Linked DNA regions of Homo sapiens. The protein of the gene in region 3 purifies or fractionates together with the protein of the main gene of each other region. This does not show direct contact. Each region holds a gene or a part of one and is shown on either strand. Other genes may lie near its edges.

What was found. The genes of interacting proteins can lie anywhere in the genome.
Region 1: the proteins of KNOP1 (region 3) and PDGFRL purify together in Homo sapiens (co-immunoprecipitation; one large-scale study listed by IntAct). This does not show direct contact.
Region 2: the proteins of KNOP1 (region 3) and SMR3B purify together in Homo sapiens (co-immunoprecipitation; one large-scale study listed by IntAct). This does not show direct contact.
Region 4: the proteins of KNOP1 (region 3) and GLYR1 purify together in Homo sapiens (affinity purification with mass spectrometry; one large-scale study listed by BioGRID and IntAct). This does not show direct contact.

The regions. Positions count from the first base shown.
Region 1 is NC_000008.11:17,635,105-17,639,715, reverse strand, and holds part of PDGFRL (platelet-derived growth factor receptor-like protein precursor), read right to left. Parts: intron 1-4,611.
Region 2 is NC_000004.12:70,380,866-70,385,930, reverse strand, and holds the start of SMR3B (submaxillary gland androgen-regulated protein 3B precursor), read right to left. Parts: upstream 2,801-5,065; 5' UTR 2,719-2,800; intron 1,435-2,718; 5' UTR 1,421-1,434; coding exon 1,367-1,420; intron 1-1,366.
Region 3 is NC_000016.10:19,702,725-19,708,227, forward strand, and holds part of KNOP1 (lysine-rich nucleolar protein 1), read right to left. Parts: intron 4,498-5,503; coding exon 4,186-4,497; 3' UTR 1-4,185.
Region 4 is NC_000016.10:4,837,289-4,841,899, forward strand, and holds part of GLYR1 (cytokine-like nuclear factor N-PAC), read right to left. Parts: intron 4,103-4,611; exon of another isoform or gene 2,964-4,102; intron 2,392-2,963; exon of another isoform or gene 1,955-2,391; intron 1-1,954. UniProt on the Homo sapiens protein: Cytokine-like nuclear factor with chromatin gene reader activity involved in chromatin modification and regulation of gene expression. Acts as a nucleosome-destabilizing factor that is recruited to genes during transcriptional activation.

The DNA of each region.
Region 1 (4,611 bases), on a different chromosome or scaffold from region 3:
GAAAGAATCTTAAGAGCTGTGAGGCAAAAGCACCAGATAACTTATAAAGGAAAACATGTCAGATTAACAGCAGATTCCTCAGCAGAAACCCTACAAGCTAGAAGAAATTGAGGCCCTACCTTCAGCCTCCTTAAACAAAAGAATCATCATCTAAGAATTTTGTGTACAGCAAAACTAAGCTTCATAAATGAAGGAGAGATACAGTCTTTTTCAGACAAACAAATGCTGAGAAAATTCGCCACTACAAACCCAGCACTGTAAGAAATGCTAAAAGGAGCACTAAATATTGAAACAAATCCTTGAAATACACCAAAATAGAACCTTCTTAAAGCATAAATCTCATAGGACCTATAAAACAAAAACACAATAAATAAATAAATAAATAAAAACCAAGGTATTCGGGCAACAAATAGCAAGATGAATAGAATAGTACCTCACATCTGAATACTAATGTTGAATGTAAATGGCCTAAATGCTCCATTTAAAAGATTCAGAATGGCAGAATGGGTAAGAAGTCACCAACCAAGTATCTGCTGTTTTGAAGAGACTCACCTAACAAATAGGACTAACATAAACTTATGGTAAAGGGCTGGGAAAAGATATTCCATGCAAAGGGACACCAAAGTGAGCAGGAGTAGCTATTCTTTTTGTTTGTTTTGTTTTGTTTGAGACAGAGTCTCACTCTGTCGGCCAGACTGGAGTGCAATGGCTCAATCTTGGCTCAATGCAACCTCCACCTCCCAGGTTCAAGTGATTCTTGTGCCTCAGCCTCCTTAGTAGCTGGGATTACAGGTGCAGGCCTGTCTTATAGAGGAGTAGCTGTTCTTATATCAGACAGAACAAACGTTAAAGAAACAGCAGTTAAAAAAGAGAAAGACGGACATTATGTAATGATAAAAGGACTTGCCCAACAGGAAAATATCACAATTATATATATATATATATATATATATATATATATATATATATATATATATGCACCTAATGCCAGAGCTCCCAAATTTATAAAACAATTACTGTTACACCTAAGAAATGAGATAGACTGCAACACAGTAATAGTGGGGAACTTCAATACTCCACTGTCAGCAATAGATAGGTAATCAAGACAGAACATCAACAAAGAAACAATGGATTTAAACTATAACCTAGAACAAATGGACTTAAGGGCTATTTGTAGAACATTCGACCCAACAACTGCAGAATATACATTCTATTCATCAGCACATGGAACATTCTCCAAGAGAGACCATATCATAAGCCACAAAACAAGTTTCAATAAATTTAAGAAAACTGAAATTATATCAAGTACTCTCTCAGACCACGGTGGAATAAAATTGGAACTCAATTCCAAAAGCAACCCTCAAAACATACAAACACATGGAAATTAAATAACCTGCTCCTGAATGATCACTGGGTCAAGAATGAAATCACGATGGAAGTTAAAAAATTATTTGAACTGAATGAAAATAGTAGCACAACCTATCAAAACCTCTGGTATACAGCAAAGGCAGTGCTAAGAGGAAAGTTCATAGCATTAAATGACTACATCAAAAAGTCTGAAAGAGCACAAATAGACAATCTAAGGTCACACCTCAAGGACTGGAAAAACCAGAACAAACCAAACCCAAACATAGCAGAACAAAAGAAATAAAGATCTGAGCAGAACTGAATGAAATTGAACCAAAAAAATACAAAAGATAAACAAAAAGCTGATTCTTTGAAAAGATAAATAAAACTGATAGACTATTAACAAAATTAACCAAGAAGATCCAAATAAGCTTCAGTTAGAAATGAAACAAGATATTACAACCAATACCACAGAAATACAAAAGATAATTCAAGGCTACTGTGAACAGCTTTACATACTCAAGCTAGAAAACCTAGAAGAGATGGATAAATTCCTGGAATTATACCACCCTCCTAGATTAAACCAGGAAGAAAGAGAAACTCTGAACAGACCAATAACAAGCAGTGAGATTGAAATGGTAATTTAAAAAACTGCCAACAAAAATAAGCCCAGAATCAGATGGATTCACAAATGAATTCTATCAGACATTCTAAGAACTGGTATCAATCCTATCAACATTATTTCACAAGACAGAGAAAGAAGGAATCCTCCCTAAATCATTCTGTGAAGCCAGTATCACCCTAATACCAAAACCAGGAAAGGACATAACAAAAAAGAGAAAACTATAGACCAACATGTTTGATGAATATAGATGCAAAAATCCTTAACAAAATACTAGCTAACCAAATCCAACAGCATATCAAATAGATAGTCCACCATGATCAAATGGGTTTCATACTGGGGTGGTTTAACATACACAAGACATTAATGGGATACACCACATAGAATTAAAAACAAAAAATCACATGATCATCTCAACAGACACACAAAAAACATTTGACAAAATCCAGCATCCCTTTATGATTAAAACCCTCAGCAAAATTGGCATAGAAGGGACATACCTTAAGGTAATGAAAACTGTCTATACTGAATGGGAAAAAGTTGAAAGCATTTCCCCTGAGAACTGCAACAAGACAAGGATGCCCACTTGCATTCAACATAGTACTGGAAGTCCTCGCCAGAGCAATCAGACAAGAGAAAGAAATAAAGGGCATCCAAATCAATAAAGCGAAGTCAAACTGTCGCTGTTTGCTGATGATGTAATCATATACCTAGAAAACCCTAAAGACTCCTCCAAAAAGCTGCTAGAACTGATAGATGAATTTAGCAAAGTTTCAGGATACAAAATTAATGTAAACAAATCAGTAGCTCTGCTATAAACCAACAGCAACCAAGCTGAGAATCAAATCAATAACTCAACCCCTTTTATAATAGCTGCAAAAAATATATATACTCAGAAATATACCTAATCAAGGAGGTGAAAGACCTCTGCAAGGAAAACTACAAAACACTGCTGAAAGAAATCATAGATGACACAAACAAATGGAAACACATCGCATGCTCATGGATGGGTAGAATCAATATTGTGAAAATGACCATACTGCGAAAAGCAATCCACAGATTCAATGCAATTCCCACCAAAACACCACCATCATTCTTCACAGAACTAGAAAAAACAATCCTAAAATTCATGTGGAACCAAAAAAGAATCTGCAGAGCCAAAACAAGACTAAGCAAAAAAAAAAAACAAATCTAGAGGCATCCCATTACCTGACTTCAAACTATACTATAAGGCCATAGTCACCAAAACAGCATGGTACTGGTATAAAAATAGCACATAGACCAGTGGAACAGAATAGAGAACCCAGAAATAAACCCAAATACTTACACTGATCTTTGACAAAGCAAACAAAAGCATAAAATGGGGAAAGGACACCCTATTCACCAAATGGTGCTGGGATAATTGGCAAGCCAAATGTAGATGATGAATAAGACTGAATCCTTATCTTTCACCTTATACAAAAATCAACTCAAGGTGGATCAAATACTTAAATCTAAGACCTGAAACCATAAAAATTCTAGAAGATAACAGTGGAAAAACCTTTCTAGACATTGGCTTAGGCAAAGAGTTCATGACCAAGAACCAAAAAGCAAATGCAACAAAAACAAAGATAGATCGGGCTTAATTAAACTAAAAAACTTCTGCACAGCAAAAGAAATAATCAGTAGAATAAACACACAACCCACAGAGTGGGAGAAAATTTTTGCAATCCATACATCTGAAAAAGGACTAACACCCAGAATCTACAAGGAACTCAAACAAATCAGCAAGAAAATAACAATCCCATCAAAAATTGGGCTTAGGACATGAATAGACAATTCTCAAAAGACATACCAAAGTCCAACAAACATATGAAAACGTACTCAACATCACTAATGATTAGGGAAATGCAAATCAAAACCACAATGTGATACCACCTTACTCCTGCAAGAATGGCCATAATTTAAAAATTAAAAAATAATCGATGTTGGCATGGATGTGGTGAAAAGGCAACACTGTTACACTGCTGGTGGGAATGTAAACTAGTACAACCACTATGGAAAACTGTGGAGATTCCTTAAAGAACTAAAAGTAGAACCACCATTTGATCCAGCAATCCCATTACTGGGTATCTACCCAGAGGAAAAGAAGTCATAATATGAAAAAGATATTTGAACACATGTTTACAGCAGTACAATTCACAAGTGCAAAAATATGGAACCAGCTCAAATGCCCATCAATCAATGAGTGGATAAAGAAATGTAGTATATATACCATGGAATACTACTCAGCCATAAAAAGGAATTAAATAATGGCATTTGCAGCAACCTGGATGGAGACCATTATTCTAATTGAAGTAATTCACAAATGGAAAACCAAACATGGTATGTTCTTACTGTTAAATGCGAGCTAAGCTATGAGGATGCAGACATAAGAATGACACAATGAACTTTGGGGATTCAGGGGAAAGGGTTGGGGGGAGGGGTGAGAGATAAAAGCCTATACATTGGGTATAGTGTACACTGCTCAAGTGATGGATACACCGAAATCTCAGAAATCATCTAAGGAACTTATTCACGTAACACACACCTACTGTTCTTAAAAACCGATTGAAATCAAAAATGACAAAATATATTAAAAACAAAGAGAACACTCTGAAGGA
Region 2 (5,065 bases), on a different chromosome or scaffold from region 3:
ACTTTGAAATTATAAATGTTTTTCTTTTGTATTCTGAGGGAATAAAAATATTGAAAATAAGCTTTATAATCAAGCCATTAAGATATTACCTTTAAAATATATCAATATATTTTATTGGTTTATTAAAAATTATGTCAACATATAATGCTCTCAGTAATTTAGCCAAGGTCAGACTACCTCAGTAACCTTAGAATTTCCTGATTTTGTTCCTTTTTGAAAGTAGATGAGGCCGGGCACGGTGGCTCACGCCTGTAATCCCAGCACTTTGGGAGGCCGAGGCTGGCGGATCACGAGGTCAGGAGATCGAGACCATCCTGGCTAACACGGTGAAACCCCGTCTCTACTAAAAATACAAAAAAATTAGCCGGCCGTGGTGGCGGGCGCCTGTAGTCCCAGCTACACCGGAGGCTGAGGCAGGAGAATGGCGCGAACCCGGGAGGCGGAGCTTGCAGTGAGCCGAGATCGCGCCACTGTACTCCAGCCTGGGCGACAGAGCGAGAGTCTGTTTCAAAAAAAAAAAAAAAAAAAAAAACAAAGTAGATGAAAAAGGAATTATTTTATGTTTCATGTTTCAGAATGATGTAAATTTATGTTGCTTGATTTGTGGAAGTCATAATCTAAAAAAAACAGCTTTCATATTTTTCAATTTGATATAGATTTTATAGTACTTTGGTGGAAATTACTCTGGAATTAATATTCTCTTTCTGTCACTGGAATTAATCTAACACTACTTTGAAATCGAGTATGATTCTACTACTTTGAAATACGTGTGTTTTAAAAACATTTTTGTAATTTTGTATGATATTTAGTATCTCATTTGTCTTTAACCTGGTTTTGTATACAAAGTAGCTGTTTATATATAAATGCTTAGCATTCTCCCAAAATTTAGCATGCAAAGATACTTGTAGATCCTTAGTAAAATGCATCTTTCCAGGTCCCATTATCTGATACTCTTATTGAAGCTTGGATGAGGTCTTTACTATATTTTTAATAAGTGAGTTAGGTGACTCTGGTGTAAATGATCCATAAACTACATGCTGGGAAAACGGTTTTATTTTGATTATCTATTTTTATAGAGTTTTACCTACTGTGTAACTGACTAGAGTATGGGAACTTAACATTTATACGTATCTGTTTAATGCAGTCTGATACCACAGACTTGAGCTGTCCAGTATGGCAGCCATCAGACATGTGTGGTTATTTAAATTAGATTTTAAATTTAAATTTAAGCCCTAAACAGTGTTTCATTGATGATTAATAGTTACTAATATATAAGAAAAGGTAACATCATTAATGTAAAAAGAAATCTGAAGTAATGGTTAATGAGAAACTATAAAGAAGTGTGATCGTGATTAATGATACTTACTGTGAAACACGCTGCAAGAGCCCAAAGGCCCAAGATCCAAGTCAGTGATTTCATCCTTTCAGTTGCCTCTGAAAGTAAGCACAATAGGTGATCAGTATGATTGTTTTTTATTAAAAAGTACTATTTAAAATGTCTCAACACTTGGATATAATGTAATACAAATATCCTACTATAGCATTTTTAGGGAATTTGCCTAATGTTATTTTGAATTCAGTATTACTGTGGGGCAATATTAGTAGGCTTATAAAATTTGACTTCAAAATAGTGGAAGTAGTTTTTATTTTTGACTTGTAAACTGATCCTGGGGATAATGCCAAAGAGTTGTTCATACATTGCTCTGAGCAATAGAAGCTTTTATGACTAAGGTTTTTCCCTTAGAAGTAACTACTTTAAAATGTATACTTATTTTCATTTGAACATTTTGATATTTTAAAAATAGTAGATACATTATAGATTTCTATGGATGGGTTTGAGATATTAACATTTTAACTAGATCTTATGTTACAAATTTTATTGCTTGGAAGAGCTTAAAAATAAGGAAAAAAAAAAGGAATCACCCTGTTGGATATAGTCTAAAAGAAGAGTCACATAATATATTTCCTAGTTTTAACAACATTCTATTACATTAATTTAGGCTGTGATGAGTGGTCTCAAAGTGCTTCCAAAAATCCATATATCAGAGACCAAGGCAAGAACATGGAGATGTCCAGGTATTCTACTCTCAATTGGGTCAAATTTTACAATATATTTCAAGTACATGATAGCTTGATTTTTGGGAAAGCAACTCCATACACCATGGTGCAAATTGGCTTCCTGTTAGTCAACTCTGCACATAGGTTGAGTGTGTGGTCTGAGCAATGCAAGTCTTGAAAGAATCCTATGGACAAAATTTCACTGGATATTCAATTATATATATGTGGGTGTGGCTATTCCTTTAACTAGTACTTTTCCTATATCCATTCTTAAATTAAGTTTGAAAAACAAAAGAAAAACCAATAATAAAAATATTCTGTAGAGCAATTCTGTCTTTTAGAGTACACCTGAGACTATTCTATCCTTATGAAGTTTCAAGAACTTTAAGGTACATCAGGAGGAAAAGTCAATTGTGTACTTGGATGGACCGATTGGCCCAAATGCCCAACATGAATGTTTTACTCTGACCTGTAAAAACCAGAATTTTTCAAAATTTATTGCATTTAATGACTTACAATTTCATGTAAGCTACTTATGTTTTTGCTGATAATGAATGTTCTATGAAAAGCCCATAAAATGTTATCGTTGAAAATGTTATCTTTGAGAAAAATTTCAATATTCAAAGTAAAAATATTCAGTTTATATTTCCAAGTACCTACCTTTGTGTGAGGATCTGTCTTACAGTTGATTAATCTGCTGGTCAAAATGACTCTTGCCAGTTGAAAGACGGCAAATAAAGGTGAAAAGGGACAAGAAATCTTAGCTCTTATATATTGTAATGGATTTCTGTTGGCAATAAGAGAAAGGCTATTCGGAAATAAAATAACTTCCGAGTTGATGCTCTTCAAAGATAGGAAAGTTGTTCTTGCCAATTTGGCAGTCTTTTTCTGGATTTTTTTTCATTCCTGAAAAGCATTGACCTGTTCAACATTTGCTGTTTCCTGAGGAAACAGATACAACAAATCATAATATCCTATCACCTCAGAAAAACAATCTGGGGCCTGTGGTGCACCATTTCCTCTTTATTTCAAAGGAAAAGCTGGCACGAGTTTTTTCTGTTCCAAGTGATTTAATGGGCCATCTTTTGTTATTTGCTAGTCTCATCATATTTTCTATTTTATTTCAAAGGCCTCCATATGTGCGAAATACAAATATTTTTAAACTGAATTCTAACATGATCAGGAGAACCTAGGGGAACAAAAATGATAATTAAAATTAAAAGTGCCTAATTAAATAAATATTGCTAAATACCACACACACACACATGCACGCAGGTACGATGCATGGCCAGTAATGTAAAGAATATCTAAAATTTCACTTGACTGTTTTGATCACTTTGCTATATGTTGTGGGTTTCATGTTTCTATTTTTTGGTTGAAATAATGAAATTGTATTATTGTTTTGTGCTTGAAAGTTTGTATATATCTTATCCTATGTATGGTTTTTCACAGTTGTCTTCATTGAGTAGATGTTTCTGAAGGATGATGAAAATGAGTGCTGCTATTAAGATTTGGATCTAAGTTTCAAAAAAGCAGGAAAGAAAAATCTAGTGGTGGAAGAGGGATAATAGTCAGAAGGTTCATGCAGTTTCTCAGTCTTAACTATATTTCATTTCTTTGTGATTATCTTAAGTTAGTAGACTATTTACAAGACCTTATATATGCATTTTTTAGGAAGTTCCTTTTGCCAGTGAAGAACTAAATGAGAACAACTGTGTTTTAAAAATCATGTGGTCCTTGCCATTATTAACTTGAGACATTTAATTAAATAAAAATATAATGACAAGCAAAATTTTTGATTATGGCAAAATTATACGGATATCTTGACTTTGAAGTGGATGTCTAATGGAAAATTACAGCCTTGTTTTTTTGATAAATCTAGGCTTTGAGCATAATTTTTCCTAAGCTAGATGATCCTATAATCTGTAGTTTTGACACATTATTATTTAATAATAACAGCTATTACTTATTAAACCTTTAGCATATTCCACGTGGCAGGATAAAATGAGTTCTATTGTTATCTCTGTTGTACACATAGATGACATAGATGCTAACTAGCTAAGTGGGGCTTGACCTAAGTCTTCCCACTGAGTGAAGACCTAAGTCTCCCTACAGGGGCCTGAGTGAGTTTTTAACCAGCATTCCATGTTGCTCCCCAAATCTTAATAATCACCATACACTTAACTAACTTTATGTTACAGTACACTGTAGAGATGAATCAAGTGAACTTAATAGTCAGGTAATTCTACTTCAAAGCCAAATACCAACAATTCTTTGCTGGGTTATATGAGACAAGCTATTTTATCTCATTGTGTTTCAATTTCTTCATTTGAAAAATGTGTATATTTATAATTTTTAGGTCATGAAGTTTACAACCAACCTTCCTTTCTCCCCTCCCCTCCCCTCCCTCCCCTCCCTCCCCTCTCTCCTTCCCTCCTTCCCTCCTGCCCTCCTTCCTTCCTTCCCTCCCTCCCTCCTACATTTATTGAATATCTGCTGGGTACAAGACATAGTGCAAGTTGCTGAATTTACAGCATATCTAAGTGCTTAGTGTTTTAAAAATCCTTTGTGAGGTGGGATAGCAATAAAGAAGCTGCACTTCCAGAGTTGATGTTAGTTTTGAATGACTCTTCTTAATTTCATTTACTTTGTTGGAGTTTCACTGCCTTTAAAAAATTCTGATGACTTAATTAAGTGTAATACAATATACTCCTGGTTTGCTAATCTTAGCCCTTAATATGTTGCTGAATGATTACATGCCCCAACATCAGTGAAGATGGTTCTATTCCTAATTAACATAGAAATTTCCACTTCTTTCTTTGATGATAATTCAGTTTGTCAAAAGCTGAATATCTCTTCTTTCTTGTTTTGATGCCAACATATTCACCAGCCAAATGTCTGAAGTCAAAGTGGGATCTACATTGTAATGGATCATTGGCTCTGAGGGATTTAGGATGAACGCTGGCAAAACCGAAAGACAATTTCTGAGTGGTTTGTGACCAGAAAG
Region 3 (5,503 bases):
GCTCATGCCTGTAATACCAACACTTTGGGAGGCTGAGGTAGGTGGATCATGAGGCCAAGAGATCAAGACCATCCTGGCCAACATGGTGAAACTCCATCTCTACTAAAAATACAAAAAAAAATTAGCTGGGTGTGGTGGTGCTCACCTGTAATCCCAGCTTCTCAGGAGGCTGAGGCAGGAGAATCGCTTGAACCCTGGAGGTGGAGGTTGCAGTGAGCTGAGATCACGCCTCTGCACTCCAGCCTGGGCGTGGAGTGAGAGTGAGACTGTCTCAAAAAAAAAAAAAGAAAGAAAAACAAAACCATGGCAACTTCCACATGAGACTTACTTACATTAGGTCTTCTATTGTTACTTTAACAAATTGCCACAATTGTAGCGGCTTAAAACATAATGTTGTCATCTGACGGTTCTATAGGTCTTAAGTCCGCCTGGTCTCACTGAGCTAAAATTAAGGCATCAGCAGGGCTACGCTCCTTCTGGGAGGCTCTAGGGGAGAATCTACTTCCTTGCCTTTTCCAGCTTCTAGACAGCACACACATTCCTTGGCTTCTGACCCTTCCCTTCCCATCTTCAAAACCAGCAGTGTCTAGTCAAGTCTTTCTTAAGTCTCTTTGATGTGGACTCTTTTTTGCCTTCCTCTTCCACATTTAGGGATCTTTGTGATTCCTCCGGCCCACCCAGAAACACGGGATCCTCTTCCTGTTTTAAGGTCAGCTGATTAGCAAACTTAATTCCCTTTTGTTTCGTAACCTAACAAATACACAGGTTCTGAGGAGATGTGGTAGGAAGGGGTGTTATTCTGCCAACTTCTTTTGTGAGGACTGTGTCTATTTGGCAAATTTTTTTTTTTTTTTGGAATGGGGTCTTGCTCTGTCACCCAGGCTGGAACACAGTGGTGCAATCATGGCTCACTGCAGCCGTGATGGAGGGTGGTGCTCAAACCAATGTTAATTTACAAAGGATGGGAGCTCAGAGTGATTCTCCCAAGACAAGACTGCCAGAGGGTGGGGTCCTGCTCATCTGAGAGATGGTGATCTGCACTGGCAGAAAGCAAAAGGACAAGATTAAGTCCATTCTGAAGACACCCAGCATTGTGGTGTCTTGGCTGCCCAACCTCCACTGGTGAGACGTAAAGTTCTTATGTATATAGAAAAGCAATAAAGCTCCCCCTGTGCAAATGGAACTCCTAAGCCAGTGGTGATGTTGAGTTAGAAAGTCACAGCCTATTACAGACAGAATTTACACCAGGGGCAAGGCCTGACCATCACACCCTCATGAGAGCTACCAGTCACCAGGGCTTGGATGGGAGCAACACAGCGGACATATGATCACCTCTCCACAATCACCCAAAGACAGTTTTTTTTTGTTTGTTTTTGAGACAGAGTCTCATTCTGTTGCCCGGGGCTAGAGTGTGCAGTGGCACCATCCCAGCTCACTACAACCTCCACCTCCCGGGTTCAAGCGATTCTCCTGTCAGCCTCCTGAGTAGCCGGGATTACAAGCCCGTGACACCACACCCACCCAGCTAATTTTTGTATTTTTAGTAGAGACGGGGTTTCACCATGTTGGTCAGGCTGGTCTCGAACTCTTGACCTCGTGATCCGCCCACCTTGGCCTCCCAAAGTGCTGGGATTACAGGCGTGAGTCACCGCACCTGGCAGAGCACAACCTTTTTAACAGAGCTAAGGCAGGCCAACGTCAGGGTGACCTCTTGGCAAGATAAAAACTATGAGTAGTAAACGGCCGATTCCAGCTACTCAGGAGACTGAGGCACAAGAATCGCTTGAACCCAGGAAGCAGAGGTTACAATGAGCCGAGATCACGCCACCACACTCCAGCCTGCGCGACCGTGAGACTCCATCTCAAAAAAAAAGAAACGAACGGCTGGTTCCTGTTTACACCAGGCACATTCCTGTAGTGTTGCTCAAGGTCAGGAGGGATTTGTTTCTCCATCAAAGGAGGAGGTGCCCAGAAGGCACTCACTCAAATCCAGAACACTGCCTCTTGGGCTTTCCACGGCCTCTCCCATTATGTATCTCAAGGTTGAATCCAGGAAAGAAAGGCAGGACAAGTTCACGTCCTGAGGGAAGTGGCCCAAGTAGGTCCTTGTAGCACATACTTGTCCAACTATTGACCTGGCCAATGCTTGCGGATCAGGGTTCAGAGCCAGGGAAACTGCCTGAAGTGCCTGCCTCACCTCTGCCCAATGGGCAGCTGTGGACACCATGGCCACTTCACCAGCATCCACTCTTCTTGACTGAAGGGAATCACCAGCCTTCCCATGACAGGGGCGGGTGCAGCTATGGGCAGATGACTCATTGCCCAGCAATGGAGGCTTCTGGAAGTTTCCTTGAGACACAAAAAGGCTTTTCTTCCTCTGGAATGTTCTAGGGTCTTGATATGCTGCCTGGAACTGTTACTGCCATCTTTGTACTAGCCTTGATGAAGCCAACACTGGAGATGATGGAGAGAATGCTTCCTTGGCGAGCTGTTGAACCAGGCCCTAATCAGGCCTTCCTGCCACGTGAGACTGAACTTTCTGGCCATCGAGGCCTGCCTGGGCTGGGATGTCTGTAGGAGGCATGTTCAGGCCAAACGATCGTGAAAATGTCCCAGTCAGAACCTGTATTTTGGGATGCAAAAAGCTAGGTGAGTGGAAAGAAGGTGGTCACAGATGGTCACATGCGACTTGGGCCACTGGACCTGGAGCTCTTTGAGGCTTGCTGTAGAGTCCAGGCTTGGAAACGCTGTCCCCACAGCCGATGAGGCAACTTCCCGTGTCATCTCCACACGTTCATCTCCTCCTGGCATTCAATATCCACCTACAGAAGTCACCTGGGATTCTCTTCCTTGTGATAAAAAAGAATCTCATCAGACACATCCCTGGGGCTGGGCACAGTGGCTCACACCTGTGATCCCAGCTCTTGGGGGCTGAGGCAGGAGCATGAGTTGAGTCCAGGAGTTTGGGACTAGCCTGGACAATATAGTGAGACCCCATCTCTACAAAAAATTTTAAACACTAGCTGGTTGTTGTGGTGCACACCCACAGTCCCAGCTACTTGGGAGGCTGAGGTGGGAGGATCACTTAAGCTGGATAGGTAGTGGTTGCAACAAGCCGTGATATGCCACTACACTCCAGCCTGGGTGACAGAGTGAGAGCCTATCTCAAAACACACACACACGTCCCTGGGATCTGCCATTGATTCATTTGCGGGACTAACCACTCTTCCTAAAATGCCTTGTTCAGAATCCAGTCAAAGCACAAAAATCCTACCTCAGCACTTAGGGCCGAAGGGACACCAGTGGAAAAGGCAGGACTGGTTTAGAGGCACATTTCCCAGCAGCAGCAGCTCAGTCACATGTGTTTGGTAACAACTCAGACACCTCTCTGCCTACAGCTGCTCTATGACAGGGGAAAGGAAAAGGAAGGAAAAGGAGTTTGCGATTCTCCGTTCCTCATTCACTCCACTTTTTATCAGAGATGCAGACTTGTCATAAAACTTTTTCCTCCATCTAAAGACATTTCAATCCCCAACGAGGATTCTGGTGGAAATTCCCTAAAGGGGACATTCAGAGTGGCGAATAGTGAACTTAGGGCTTCGGGTACAAAAGTACAACACCCTGCACTTAGTGGCTGGGTGACCCCAGGCAATTTTATTACTTTATCCCTGAACCTCAGTTGCCTCATCTATAAGATGGGGCTAATAATAGCACCCATTTCATAATTATGAAGATTAAATACATTAAGGAAAACACTAGTATGTCCCTAGTACCTGCTAAACACTCAACAAAAGTTAACTGTACATACTGATGTCTCAAACAGGGACGGAATGTTTAACACAGAAAACAGGAGGTTTTAGCACTCACTCGTTCTCCTGGCTCCCGAAATATGAGCTGCCCTGCCCCAGTTCATCCAAGCCCATCAATATAGTTGTCCTCGTCCTTAATCTCCACAGGTGTTCAATGTGAGCCAACTGTCAGATGGCTTTCATTTGCACAACTGAATAAACCATTTATGCCTAGTGTTCCATTACTGGAACGCTAAGCTTATGGGAGTTATTTATATCTTACTGCTCGAGGTCCTCACCAAGATCTGATTTTTTCACAAAAAAAATTTGTAATCTCCAGCATAAATGGAATAATCAAAGCAATTGTGGCAGTTTTGGGGGGACAAAACTCTAGAGTTTAATCTTCCAGCTTGACTGACTTGGAAGCGTTCCTGTCAATGTAAAAGATCTTGTTGGGGGCGGTGGAGAAGCCGAGGCCGGCTCCCCGGCTGTACTTCCAGCTCATGGCCCGGTCGTAGTCCCGCTGCAGATTCTGCTGCAGGCTGTCAGCCGCCTTCTTGCCGAGGGCCATGTTGGGCCTTGCAATCGTGCTGGCGGGGCGGCTGAACGAAGGGGACAGGTTTTTGAAGCCACCCATAAGTCTGAGAAATTTCAGTTTTTGGTCCTCGTTCTCAAAACCAGCAGTATCCCACTGGCCAAACTGGGTTCCCTGTGAGGAGAGGAAAAAGGTGGCTATTTTCCTTGAGTTCAAAGCCCTTTCCTTCCCTTGACCCCCACCCTCATCAGGGAGGGCCCAGCAGATTAGATGGCTGCTGTGTACCAGGCACAGTGCTAATAAGCTCAACAACGGATTATTCCGTTAATCCTAAAGACAGCCCTATGAGAAACACTGTTGTTATTCCCATTGCACAGAGGAGAAAATAGAGGTCTGCAGCTTAGCTGGAGACAGAAACCTAACTAGTGACCCCCAGAATTCCAGCCCAGGTCCAGCCAACACCACTGCCCACCTCTGCACAGAGCTGCCTTTCTGCCTTCCTCCTCCTTTCCTAACTCATGGCACACGGCACAGTGTGCCTCACTTCACAACAGCGCACTCCCCCCACCACCCTACACTAAGCATTTCCCCCCACCTCCCTACACAGTGCACCTCCCCTCCCCCACCTCCCTACACAGCACACTCCCCCACCACTCTACAGAGCACACTCCCCCCACGACCCTACACAGAGCACTCCCCCCACCTCCCTACACGGCGCACATGGCGCACCTCCTCCCACCACGCTACACAGCACACTCTCCCCCTACCATCCTACAAAGCGCACCTCCCCTAACCACGCTACACAGTGCACTCCCCCCACCACCCTACACATCGCACTCCCCCCACCTCCCTACACAGCACACTCCCCCACCTCCCTACATAGCACTTCCCCCACTCCCTATACAGCGCACCTCCCCCCACCTCCCTACACAGCGCACCTCACCCCACCATGCATCTCACAAGACAGCACACCTCCCCCACCTCCCCACAGGGCGCACCTCCCCTGCAACACAGGGCACCCCACAGCCCAGCAGCCGGGCGCACTCACCCAGCAGCCTAACGTTTGGGTGAATTGGAGGGTGGGAGAGGGCGAGTGGGAATCTGAAGTGTGCTTCTCAGAAGCACTGTTTTATGGCGGGAACGGGTGCGGGCCCACAGGGGTAAAAGGTCACACAGCCAA
Region 4 (4,611 bases), about 15 Mb from region 3:
CAGTTGTGGTAGCACACGTCTGTAATCCCAGCTACTTAGGAGGCTGCGGCAGGAACTGCTTGAACCCGGGAGGTGGAGGTTGTAGTGAGTGCAGATCGTGCTACTGCACTCCAGCATGGGCGACAGAGCAAGACTTGGTCTTTAAAAAAAAAAAAAGAAAATCATACATGTAGATACTGTATATTAAAGATGTCAGCCTATGACTAATCTTGAACGCTGTCACATGTGTTTCAGCCTTCACATAGACAGGTGACCCGGGGTGAAGCCGTGAAGCTAAGAGAAAGAGAAAAGGAGAAAGGACGGGGAGAAGATGGCAGGGGGAGGGAGACAGACAGAGAAAAAGCACACACACACAAGCATAGAGTATAAAGGTGAGAACAAGCCGGCACGGTAGCTCACGCCTATAATCCTAGCACTTTGGGAGGCCGAGGTCAAGAGATTGAGACCACCCTGGCCAACACGGTGAAACCCTGTCTCTACTAAAAATACAAAATTAGCTAGGTGCGGTGGCATGCGCCTGTAATCCCAGCTACTCCGGAGGCTGAGGCAGGATAATCGCTTGAACCCAGGAGGCGGAGGTTGCAGTGAGCCAAGATCGTGCCACTGCATTCCAGCCTGGCGACAGAGCGAGACTCCATCTCAAAAAATAAATAAATAAATAAATAAATAAATAAATAAATAAATAAAGATAAGAATAAAAATACAGGTGAGAACAAAGATGGGGCCAGAAGGTGTGGGTTTGCTTCTCCATTTGGATTTGGTGAATACTTAGTAAACAATTTCTATGGGTGCCTTTTTAAAAAAAATCCATCCAAAGGGGCTGAAGATTACTGAGGTGTTACAGGCCAAGTTCTTCAGAAATAAAGGCACCAGAAAAAAACACACACAAATCAGGTGCCAGGTGAAACGAAAAAGGGATGCTTCCAAGCTGCTATGCTTCTAATTATTAACCACATATTCTTCTAGAGCAGCTACTTTCAGTACTGACTCAGACACCTCACATCCAGCGAGACCGGTCCACCTTAGATGTGGCTTGGTGGAAAAGGACCACTGGTCTCTCAGTTTCCTCATCTGTGAAAAAATAAGAACCAGAAAGATGACCCTGTGCACTTCCTGAAAGGGCTGCTGTGAGGACTGGAGGGGAAGACTGCTATGGAAACTCGCAGGTAGGCACTTGCAGCTTCTCCACTGTTTGTCCACAATCTGTTGAACCGGTTGGTTTCTGGTGGCTTCTAAGCACCTGTAATTTAAATGAACACTCCCTCCATTCCATCATCATCCACAGCCACTGATGAAACTTTTCTTTTTTTTTTTTTGAGACAGAGTCTCACTCTGTTGCCCAGGCTGGAGTGCAGTGGCGCGATCTCGACTTACGGCAAGCTCTGCCTCTGGGGTTCACGCCATTCTCCTGCCTCAGCCACCCGAGTAGCTGGGACTACAGGTGCCCGCCACCACGCCCAGCTAATTTTTTTGTATTTTTAGGAGAGACGGGGTTTCACCATGTTAGCCAGCATGGTCTTGATCTCCTGACCTCGTGATCCGCCTGACTTGCCCTTTGAAAGTTCTGGGATTACAGATGTGAGCCACCGTGCCTGGCCAAAACTCTTCTTTTTTAAAAGACAGGGTCCTGCTCTGTCACCCAGGCTGGAATACAGTGCCTCAATCACAGTTCACTGTAGCCTTGACCTCCCAGGCTCAAGCGATCCTTCTGCTTCAGTCTCCCAAGTAGCTGAGACTACAGGTACATGCTACTACGCATGAACCCTCTCACCTGTGTTTCAGCCTTCGGATAGACAGGTGACCTGGGCTGAAGCCGTGAAGCTAAGAGAAAGAGAAAAGGAGAAAGGGCGGGGAGAAGATGGCAGGGGGAGGGAGACAGACAGAGAAAAAGCACACACACACACACAAACACACACACAAGCATAGAGTATAAAGGTGAGAACAAGCCGGCATGGTAGCTTTAAATTTTTTATTTTTAAATTTTTTGTAGAGATGGGTCTTGCCATGTTACCCAGGCTGGCCTTGAACTCTTAGGCTTGAGTGATGCTTCTGCCTCTGCCTCTTGAAGTGTTGGGATTACGGGTGTGAGCCATCACGCCTGGCCCCGATGAAACTTTTAAACCGTGAGCTCTGTCTCTACTCTGATGGGGGGGTCACCACTAATCAGACCTGTCAGAGAGGGACCCTCGTGCACTTGACACATAATCTTTGGTTGTAGTCACCAAGTGAAGCTGGCAGGGTTTTGCTGAAATTATATCCCCTTCGTATTTCCATGAAAATACAAAAATTACGTGGGCAGTTTTGTCTTGGCCATCTCGCTCAGGGAGCCGAATCCGTATAAAGAAGTCCTCCTCTCACCAGGACACCTGATTAGGAAGGTCTGGCCCTCTCCTAACAGTGGGATGTCAACACAATTTGTTAGATATTTTGGCAGAGATGTGGAGAGAGAAAAATCAGGTTTCTAAAAGATTGTAATCACTGATTATCTTGTCATAAGGAGCCGTTCTTTCTGCTCTTTAATAAAAGACCTTGCAAATATTAAAAAAGTATAACTACACTTTTTTTTGCCTAAGTAGTGTGTCAATTTTGAAACTGAACATCTTTGACCAAATCCTGTATTTCTCAGGAACGGAGGACACTCCACTGGGTCAGACCCTATCCACCTGGGCCAGGGTCCAGTAACCAATGGTGCCCCCACCCAGGATGTGCCTGGACCACATGCCCCCTCCCTGATGTCAAGTGTTAAAGGCGAGGTGCAGTCCAGCTTCTACAGGAGCCACTTATGGCTTTGTCTTCACAAGTTAGTTCTCATCCCTAAAAAATCCCCTTGCAATACCTGTTTACACCACCTCTTAAACGCCCCTTTTATGCAGTGCTCCTCACCCTGGTCCTAACACAGTCATACCACAATCCACTTGCAGTGCCCATCGCCAAACTCCTCTAGGCCATTCGCTGTTTCCTACCTCCTGATCCCGTGATTCCTTCAGTCTTTGCTTTTCCACATTGAAGAGTCCTGCTCTTTTGTCTGACTCAGTTCCCTTTTCTGGATCTTGGCCAATTCTAAGAGATCCCTTTGAAAGCATGATCTGAAGTCCATAGAGTATTCCTGATGAGGCGCATACAGTTTTACATAAAGGTGGAATGATGCATGGTTTTGTACTCAAAGCCTTTTTGGTAAAAAGAGCAAACCTGGCTGACATCCTTTAGGAACTTCCAACTCTCATATTCCTTTCTTTTCAAACAAACACACACACACACACTCTCTCTCTCTCCCATAGGGAGAGTCTCCATCTCTCTCAGTTTTCCATACTTAAAGGCATCCTGGACCAATGTGTGCTAATACCTGCTGTATGGCAAGCCACACTCTACACAAGAGATACTACTTTTCCTTCCTAACTATGAGGTAGGGGGTATCATCCCCTTATGTAGAGGACACAGAGGCTCAGAAAGGTGAAATAGCTTGCCCAAATCAGGGAGCAAGGTGGAACCGGTACCTGAATGCACATTAGGCTGGTAACCAATCCAGAGCTCTTTCCCCAAAGTAATCTGCTGCCACCAGCCAATCTGGAGATCTTACCTTCATAGAAAAACACAAAATAAAATCTGCCCCAGCACTGATCACTAAGGAAGTGTTCCTTCTTTAGAGAAGTACTGTACATCTTTACCCTTTATTTCCTTTCTCTAAGTTAACTGCCTACCCACAAAAAGATAACACATTAGTACCACAGTGACTTCATTTTTATAGTTTAAAATGTAGAACTCTAGCAAAGGAGTTTAAAAAGTTAAAAATATTGCATTTAGCAGTTGCTTTGTATCCCACTTGTTTACAACCCTCCAAAGAACCTTCGTCAGTTAGAAATTATATCATCACCACCACCATCCAGGCTATTTTTGTCTTGAGCAAGCACATCACCACTGGCTTCACCTGTTTGCCTGGTTAAGCTCTGAAATTAACTCAACTCCAATTTTCTGTGTCCTATTTCTAGCACTTGTTATAAACAAGGATCACAGTTTATTAATCTAGTCTTTTAGCATTAAAAAAAAAATCGGGGCTCGGCGCTGTGGCTCATGCCCATAATGCCAGTACTTCGGGAGGCCGAGGTGGGAGGATCACTTGAGCCCAGGAGTTTGCGACCAGCCTGGGAAACATGGCGAGAACTTGTCTCTACAAAAAAAAAAAAAAAAAAAAAAAAAAAAAGTAAAAAATTTAGCAGGGCATGGTGGCACACAACTGTGGTCCCAGCTACTCGGACTGCTGAGGTGGGAGGATTACCTGAGCCTGGGAAGTCAAGGATGCAGTAAGCCATGTCCGTGATACTGCACTCCAACCCTTTCTCAAAAAAAAATCAAGAAACCAAACAAGAACAACAACAACAACAACAACAACAAAAAACATAAGGAAACAATGGCTTTCAGGCTCCTTATGAGACTGAGTTCCCATTTTTGTTTCAGACTTGTGTAATTATTCATTTAGCTAATGAAGTTTGGGCCAACCATATTGCCTCTGTTATTCCTAAGCACAAGTTACCTCAGGCAGGGAGCCTCTTCCTTTCCATAACACCCAGCTTAATGCCAATTGTTCATGGTATCCCCACTGTCTGAAATGCCCCT